2 separate regions of the Homo sapiens genome follow, and region 1 is linked to region 2. The links come from fine-mapping of genetic effects on gene expression. Tissue or cell type: whole blood. Region 2 holds a variant in brackets; the other region holds the start of a gene. All regions are shown on one strand. Distances are between the middles of the regions.

Region 1 (4,405 bases), 28 kb before region 2:
GCAGCAGCATTAGATTCTCATAGGAGCGCAAACCTTATTGTGAACTGTGCGTGCGAGGGATCTAGGTTGCACGCTCCTTATGAGAATCTAACTAATGCCTAATGATCTGAGGTGGAACAGTTTCATCCCGTAACTATCACCCCCCTACTCCCCGACCCCACACCACCCGCTCTGTGGAAAAATGGTCTTCCGGTCCCTGGTGCCAAAAACCACCAGGGGACCGCAGCATTAAACAACAAATCCCCATTGCCTGCCTCCCTCCAGGCCCTGGTAATCACCATTCCACTTTCAACACTGGCATATTTTTATTTTATATATTTATTAACAAACATGTATATAGCAATTACTATATGCCAGGTACGGTTCTAAGCCTTGAGCTCAGGAGTTCAAGACCAGCCTGGGCAACATGGCGAAACCCTGTCTCTACCAAATGTACAAAAATTAGCCAGGCGTGGTGGCTTGTGCCTATGGTTCCAGCCACAAGGGAGGCTGAGGTGGAAGGATCGCTTGAGTCCAGGAAGTCGAGACTGCAGTGAGCCATGATCACGCCACTGTACTCCAGCCCGAATGACAGAGTAAGACCCTGTCTCAAAATAAAATAAAATAAAATAAAATAAAATAAAATAAAATAACAATAATAAAAACCCTAATGAGGTCAATACTATTATTATTCCCATTCTACAGATTAGGAAACAGAAGCGCTAAGTAAACTGCCCAAGATTACACAACTAGGAAGTGACCAAGCAGGAATTCAAACTGAAGTAGTCTGGCTTTATAGTTTTTGCTATAAACCATGACATTGTAAAAATATTCATTGTAAAGAAAAACTCATCAGGAATTAGTATCATTTCTTCTATGTATATCTATCTATTGTAGGTGCAATTTAACCTAATATTCATCTCCTGTCTAAAAGACTATGTGACCAAGGTTACAAATGTCTACTGATATTTTTAGAGACTAGATATATAGCCCAGCTTTTGTTAAGGCATTTTCTTGAAGTCAGTCAGTCAAAAACTGCCTTGTATTTTAAGTATGCCAATTATAATTTACATGTAGTATTTTATAATAAAATACTTTATAAATACAAATCACAACTCACTACGATTACTTAAAATATAGAGAAAAAAATTCAGCTGTTTCTCTCTGGTCCCTTCCAAGGAAGAAAAAAGAAGAGAGAAATAAACTTCTAAATAAGTTTACAACAGCATGGCTCAATCTCAGTTTAACCTGGTAAATTCAAATTTGTCTTGCTTTGCAAGGTATACATCCAGACCAGTCTCAATTTGTCATCCAAATATATATCTCAGTAGTAATTTATTTTTGTTTAAGGGATGAGTGTGAGATTTTCTTATCTTGATTTTTTAGCTTAATAATTCTTTCCTACAAGACCAAACCATGCTTGTCATCAGTCATGTGGTGTCATTTACTATACATTAAAAACGGACAGAGTCGACAGAAAGAACAATCGTTTTCTGGAAGCCCCAGCCTGATGTAGGTTAAAAGCTCTGCTGGGGTTTGGTTTTATAATCCCCAGGCGGGGATGGCAGGGATACTAATAACGCACTCAACAAGATCACCTACTATTTCAACTACTTTCTCCTCCTATTACATACCTGATTCACAAAAATAAGCAGACAATGCATCATGTAATCTCCCCTCACCCATTAGCCATTGCAGTGTGGTACAATCTCCAGCACGTAATAAAAACCTGAGCATGCAAGAAACAGCAAAATCACTGCTATCCCTGGGAGCTGCTCGGATATTTACAATGCAGTCGTCCCCACCCCATCCCCCAAACTGGCCGGCCAGGCAGCACAGAAGCAGACGGATGCTCACCTGGGCCCCGGCTGCTACTCTCCATTCACCTGCGGGGCCTTCAGTCCGCTCCTGGAGGGGCTTGACTCCCGCAGCCTGCCGCCCGCCTCACGGTGACAGCCCGCCCGGGCGCTGACCATCCCGGCCCGGCTCTGTTTACAAGCGGCTTCTCGCGGTCCCACTCTGAAATGCTTCCGCCGGCGGCCCGGGCAGCCAGAGCCGGACACACAAGGTTCCAGGCCGCGAGGACGAGTCTTTCCTGCCCGAGGGACCCGGCAGCTAGGCAAGGCCTGACCGCACCCGCCAGGCCTCCTTATTTCTTTGCTTTCTTATATACAGTTCCTCTTGTACACATTGTGAAAGCAATGGCGTGTGTCGTGGAGTCTCCTCACTGCTCCACCCAACGCCAAAATGGGTGTTTGCGATTGGAAAATGTCACTTAGAACATGTCAGGATCGGGCTGGTTTTTAGCAGCTCCCTTGTCTAAGGGAATTAATTACTCAAATAAGTTCTTTCCAAAAGTGGGACTATTCTGGAGATTGCTTCTCATTTCCGGTTTTGGGGCTGCAGTGAAAATCCGTTTTCACTGTCCTTTCCTACGCAGGTTGAAAAGGGGTGGTTTTGAGGTGAGGTCTTCACCCCCACTTGCGGATTCCCAGCAAAATAGGGTGTGCGTGTGTGTGCACGCGGGCAGGACTGCCTGGTAAGACCGCCCACATCCCACCTGCAGTGACTGTGGTCGCTTTGCAGGGATATGCTGGTCTGATTGGACAGACCTTCCTTGCAGTTTCCTGTCTGTTTTCCATCATAGCACACTTCTTAGCCATTTTCTCACTTTATAAGTACACACTTATTTATCAGTTTTATTGGTTTTCCCACGCTCACCCATCTCACCTATAAACTCCCTGAGGGCAGGCACTATTTCAGTTTCACTCACCACCATCTAGTAGGCACCTAGCACAGGCCCAATGTATATATATCTGAATAAATGAATGAACAAAGGAATGATAAAAAAAAAAAAAGGTCAAAGGGGTCAGGGATGAAACAGAAATCTAAAACTCTGATTCCTCTTCCCACCTTCCCACCCTCCAGAAGATTAATAAGCAAATCTTTAAGCTTTGAGTTAAGAAAAAATTTCCTTTGGTTGATATTCAAAGTTTAAATAAGCTTTCTTTAAACCCTGCAATTTGAGGTACTTTTTTTTCTGTTTTGCTAGAGACAGGATCTCACTCTGTGCCCCGGCCAGAGTGCAGTCGCACGATCATAGCTCACTGCAGCCCTGAACTCCTGGGTTCAAGGGATCCCCCCAACTCAGCCTCCTGAGTAGCTAGGACTACAGGCACGCATCACCACAACGTGGCTAACTTCTTTTTTCTTTCTTTCTCTTTTTTTTTTTTTTGTAAAGGCAAGGTCTCCCTGTGTTGCCCAGGATGATCCTGAACTCCTGGCCTCAGGCAATCCTTCTTCCTTGCCTTCCAAAGTGCTGGGATTACAGGTGTGAGCCACCTCACCTGGCCAGAGGTACATTTTTTGTTTTGTTTTGTTTTAATTACCAAAAGAGAATATTTGCAGTATTCTCTTTTGCCTCAGGACTTTGTACATGTGATTCCCTCTGATGAGAGTTCTCACTCCTGGCCCATCCTCTTACTTAGGCTGGCTAATTTCTCTTTGCTCTTTAAGAAGCAGGTAACAGGTGCTTGGTCTCTCAAGTCACTTGCTTGGTCTTCTTCCAAGTGTTCTTTTCTTCTTTTCCTTCCCTTCATTACTACTCTAAAGCTTTTTAATAAACTTTCACTCTAAAAAAAAAAAAAAAAAAGGCCGGGTGTGGTAGCTCGTGCCTGTAATCCACGCACTTAGGGAGGCCAAGGCGGGTGGATCGCTGGAGGCCAGCGGTTCGAGACCAGACTGACCAACATGATAAAACCTCATCTCTACTAAAAATACAAAAATTAGCAGAGCATGGCGGTGCACGCCTGTAATCCCAGCACTTTGGGAGGTCGAGGCGGGTGGATTGATTGAGGCCAGCAGTTCGAGACCAGCCTGGGCAACATAGTGAAACCCTGTCTCTACTAAAACGAAAATTAGCCAGGCATGGTGGCACACGACCTGTAATCCCAGCTACTTAGGAGGCTGAGGCACTAGAATCGTTTGGACTCAGGAGACGCAGGTTGCAGTGAGCTGATATTGAGCCAGTGCACTCCAGCCTGTGCAAAAGAGCGAGACGCTGTCTCAAAAAAAAAAAAAAAGCAGATGACATCACACCTCTTCTGGAAACCTTGCCTGATAGGGGAACCTGCTCCTTTTATGCACTCCTAGAGGATCTCATGTGTTCCTTTATAAATGTACCCATTACATTGTGCTACACAGATCAGTCTTCCATTGGATTGGTGGTTCTCAAAATTCACATGGAACAGAATCTTCTAGGATGGTGTTTCTCAAACTTTAACGGGTAAGAATTCTGTCAAAATGCAGAATCTGATACAGTAAGTCTGGGATGGGGCCTCTCCAACAGTCATGATCTCCTAAGTGATGCTGCATTTTGAGTGTCAAGGTTCTTGAATGCTGTTAAAAATGCAGATTCCTAGGCCGG
Region 2 (4,405 bases):
CCTCCCTAGCAATGTGGAACTGTGAGTCAATTAAACCTCTTTCCTTTATAAATTACCCAGTCTCGGGTATTTCTTTATAGCAGAGTGAGAACAGACTAATACTGGGAGTTTGAAGGCTTTTGTGCAAGAAAGTAATGGGATAAAACCAATGTTGAATGCTAGATTGGAGTAGTCTAGACATAATGTAGTTATACTGAAAAAGAAGGGTCAGGTCTTAGACACCCTAAGAAGGGAGAATTAACATCTTAAGAAGGGAAAATTAGGTCTGTAAACTGGTTGTTTCATTTAAGTAAAAGATCAGAAGGACAATTAGTCATTCAGTTTTAGATATGTTAGGTTGACCTTTGATTTTCATATCTAAAAATGTCAGGCAAATCAAATTATGGGTTCAGCAATCTGCTTCCAGTCAGTAACAGAGACATTAGACCATGAAACATACAAAGTAAACACTAACAACTCCCTCCACTCCCATCCCTCCATTAAAAAACAAACAAACAAACAAAAAAACCCACCTCATTTTGTAGCTTTTGTTGATTTGCCTCCTAGTAACCAATCAGGAGGCAGTTCAGTACCTCTCTCTTCAAACAGTTACTTACGTATGCTCCTAGAAAGAAAAAAATAACTATGAAGCCATATTTATATAGATGTATACTTTTTAAATTTATTCAAGTGGTTTTGAATTCTGTGTCTACCACTAAGTTACCATGCAATCTCTGGCAGGTCGCTTAAACCTATTTGTGCCTCTCAGTGTCACCATCTAGAAAATGAGGGTGATGATATAAAAATATAGGGTTCCAAAGAAGATTAAGTGAGTTATTGAATGTAAAGGACTTAGAAGAGTGCCTGTCACATAGCAAAAGCTCAGTAAATATTTGTTATTTTTATTGTTTTCTTGGAGATCCTTTCATATCAGCCCATATAACTATAATATTTTTAAAAGGCTGTATAAAGCCGGGCATGTGGCTCATGCCTGTAATCCCAGCACTCTGGCAGGCTGAGGCGGGTGTATCATTTGAGGTCAGGAGTTTGAGACCAGTCTAGCCAACGTGGTGAAACCTCGTCTCTACTAAAAATATAAAAATTAGCTGGGTGTGGTGGCATGTGCCTATAATCCCAGCTACTCAGGAGGCTGAGAGAGGAGAATCGCTTGAACTCAGGAGGCGAAGTTTGCAGTGAGCCAGGATTGCGCCATTGCACTCCAGCCTGGGTGACAGAGTGAGACTCTGTCTCAAAAAAAAAAAAAAGAGAAAAGAAATAAAATAAAAAATAAAAGGCTGCATAATAGTCCCCAGAATGGCTAGCTCCAGATTTTCAGATTTTTCTATTATAAACGATATACTTGTACATCTATATTGGCAAGTTTTTGCAAGTATATCCATATGGTAATTTTTTGAATTGCAGAATTAAAGGATGTGGTGTATTTAAATTTTGAAGGATATTGCTAAATTGTCCTCAAAAAAGTGTACCAATTTGCACTCCTACCAATACAGCATGAGAATGACTGTGTCTGTATTCTTAACAACATTTATTATTATCTAGCTTTGTAATATGATAAACAAATTCAAATCGCTCATTGGTTTTTTTTTTACATAAGCTTTTAAAAAATAACAGCTTTATTAAGATATAATTCATATGCCAGGCAGTTTACCCATTTGAAGTGCACAATTCAATGGTTTTAGTATTTCACAGAGTTGTGCAAGCATCACCACAATCAATTTTCATGACCTCCCCCCAAAACTGTATCTATTAGCAGTCACTCACCATTTTCCCTCTAGTCCCACCCCCTCACGCCTTAGGCGACCATGAACCCACTTTCTGTCTCTCTGGATTTACGTATTCTGAGCATTTTATGTCATTGGAATCATAAAACATATGCTCTCGTGTGTGGCATTTTTCACTTAGCATAACGTCTTCAAGGCTCATCCATGTTGTAGCACGTGTCAGTTTTTCATTCCTTTTTATGGCTGAATAACAGTCTTTTGTATAGATACAGCACATTTTGTTTATCCATTCATCAGTTGATGAGAATTTGGGTTATTTATACTTTTTGGCAGTTATTTAATAATTCTGCTTTTTATTGCCAGATAATATTTCATTATATGGATATACTCATTATTTTTATATGCAGTTATTTAATTGTGAATGAGACAAAGATTTTAATAGATTTGACCATTTTCTTTTTGATTTGTTTTTACTTACTGAGTTGTACAAGAAGTTGTATATTAATGATTTTCTTTGCTTGCCAAATGTTGCAATATTTTTTCCACTTTGTATATATTCACATTTTTCTCTTCCTTTAAGACTTTAGAATTGTGTGTCTTGCCTAGAAAGTCTTTTTATATTACATCTGTGTAGTGTGGGTATAAAAAATAAAACAAAAAAAATGAAGAAAA[A/T]ATCTTATTATTTTATTTTACGTTTTCTTTTCTTTTTTTCTTTTTTGAGACAGGGTCTCACTCTGTTGCCCAGGCTGGAGTGCAGTGGCACAATTATAGCTCATTACAGCCTCAACTTCCTGTGTTTAAGCCATCCTCCCACCTCAGCCTCCCAAGTAGCTTGGACTATAGGTGTGCACCACCATGCCTGGCTGGTCTGCAACTCCTGAGCTCTAGCAGTCCTCCCACCTTGACCTCCCAAAGTGCTGGGATTACAGGTGTGGGCCACAGCACCCAGCCTAGAAATTATTTTTAAACTCCTGGATTATATATAAATAAACTCACCAATAAATGAATAAATTTATTTATTTATATATTTATTATATATAAATAAATTCACTCAAAACTCCTAATTATATATAAATTCACCAGTTTTTTAAAAACTCCTAGATTATATACAACTCCTAGATTAACATATATTTCATACTCCAGATTATATATAAATTCACCAACTATATAATCTAATATATATAATAGTAGTTCAAAACCAGTATATGTAACAAGTATAATATATACATATAAGTATATGTGTGTGTATATATATACTTATGCATGTGTATGTGTGTGTGTGTATATATACATATATATACACATATATACACTTACTTGTTTATATTACATTTCTCTCATCCAAGTATTAAGCAGGCCCCCAGACCTAACCCTGCTTAGCTTCTGAGATCAGATAAGATTGGGGGCATTCAGAGTGGTATGGCCATAGAGTATGTATTATATTGCTATCTTTGAATCCTCTGGAAATTTGGGAATATAAAGAGCATGGTAAAGAATCCATTTTATTTTATTTTCCATTCCTAGCCAGTTTTCTCATCACTGTCTATTGATTAATACATCTTCCCTTCTCCCATCCCTCCCCTATAAATTCGACTCATCTACCTTTTTCACACATTAAATCTGTATACGTATTTGGGTTTATTTCTGTTGATTCTCTTCTATTCCATTCTATTCTATTTAGCTATTCTATTTCTTCTCTAGAATAAGATATTTTAATTATTATAACTCCATGATACATTTTAATGTATAGTTGTATTAATTACCCTCTCACTACTCTTGTTTTTCAGAGTTTTTCTAATTGCCCATTTATATGTCTTGAAGAACTTTAGTGTTATTTTTGTCAGGTTGAAAAAAATCACCTTGGTGTTTTATTTGGCATATACATTGAATTTACAGATCATTTAAGGAAATCAATGTCTTTATAATGTGAATAGTCTCTCTTAATGTTGTAGGCAAAGAGGGAAAATCTGAAGAGGAAAAGGAAGAGGAGGAGGAGAAGGAGGTAGAGGAGGGGGAAGAGGGGAATAAGGAAGAAAAAGAGACAATTTCCTTCATAATTCACATTCTAAAATATGACGTAAATTGCATTTCCCTCTGAATAGCACAAAACACTTTTAAAACACCATCTCAGTCTCTAAAACATCTCAGCAGTATGCAATTACTATTGCTAATTGATAGACTAAAAGTTCAAGGCACAAACTTGGCCATGTTCTTTAACTTATATAATCATTCTAAAGTGATTTCTTTTCTTTTGGGTACTTATGAAGAACTGAGTGTAAATCTTTCCTGCCTACAGGTTTTTGGCAGCCCCTGCTGGAGTAAGATTATGTAATGGATAGGGGTAACAGCTCGCATATCTATATGCAAGCAATCTAATTGACAGCGACTTTATTCTGATGTAAGCTACTTTGCGAAAATTTGGACTCTTACCCCAACTTCAACTTTTATCCCACTGTCAAAATTATTTCCAGATTATCCAAAGTGATAGGTAATAAACAGAAAAATAGATTAACACTCATTCTTAGCTTCTTAGACCTCTTAATTTTGAACAGTTTCCTTTGGAGAATTGTAAAATTAAAGGTTATTTTCCCACAATTTTTCTCCTTCTAAATATTTGGATAACACACTAGGGTGACTAAATGGATACTTCGAGCCTACCACGAAGACGGCCAATCTGCAAAGCA

The links. PIP is the estimated chance that this variant, and not a neighbour inherited with it, causes the effect.
Region 1: PLEKHM3 starts here. The variant in region 2 is fine-mapped to the expression of PLEKHM3 in whole blood (TOPMed, PIP 0.95).

The regions. Positions count from the first base shown.
Region 1 is chr2:208,023,553-208,027,957 of GRCh38, forward strand. PLEKHM3 (pleckstrin homology domain containing M3) reads right to left here and starts at 1,975. Exons shown (of 8, transcript NM_001080475.3): 1 at 1,837-1,975.
Region 2 is chr2:208,051,107-208,055,511 of GRCh38, forward strand. It overlaps the pseudogene RNA5SP116. Among named protein-coding and RNA genes, the nearest start is that of PLEKHM3, 28 kb to the left of the region's middle. The variant A/T (reference allele first, on the strand shown) is at 2,394.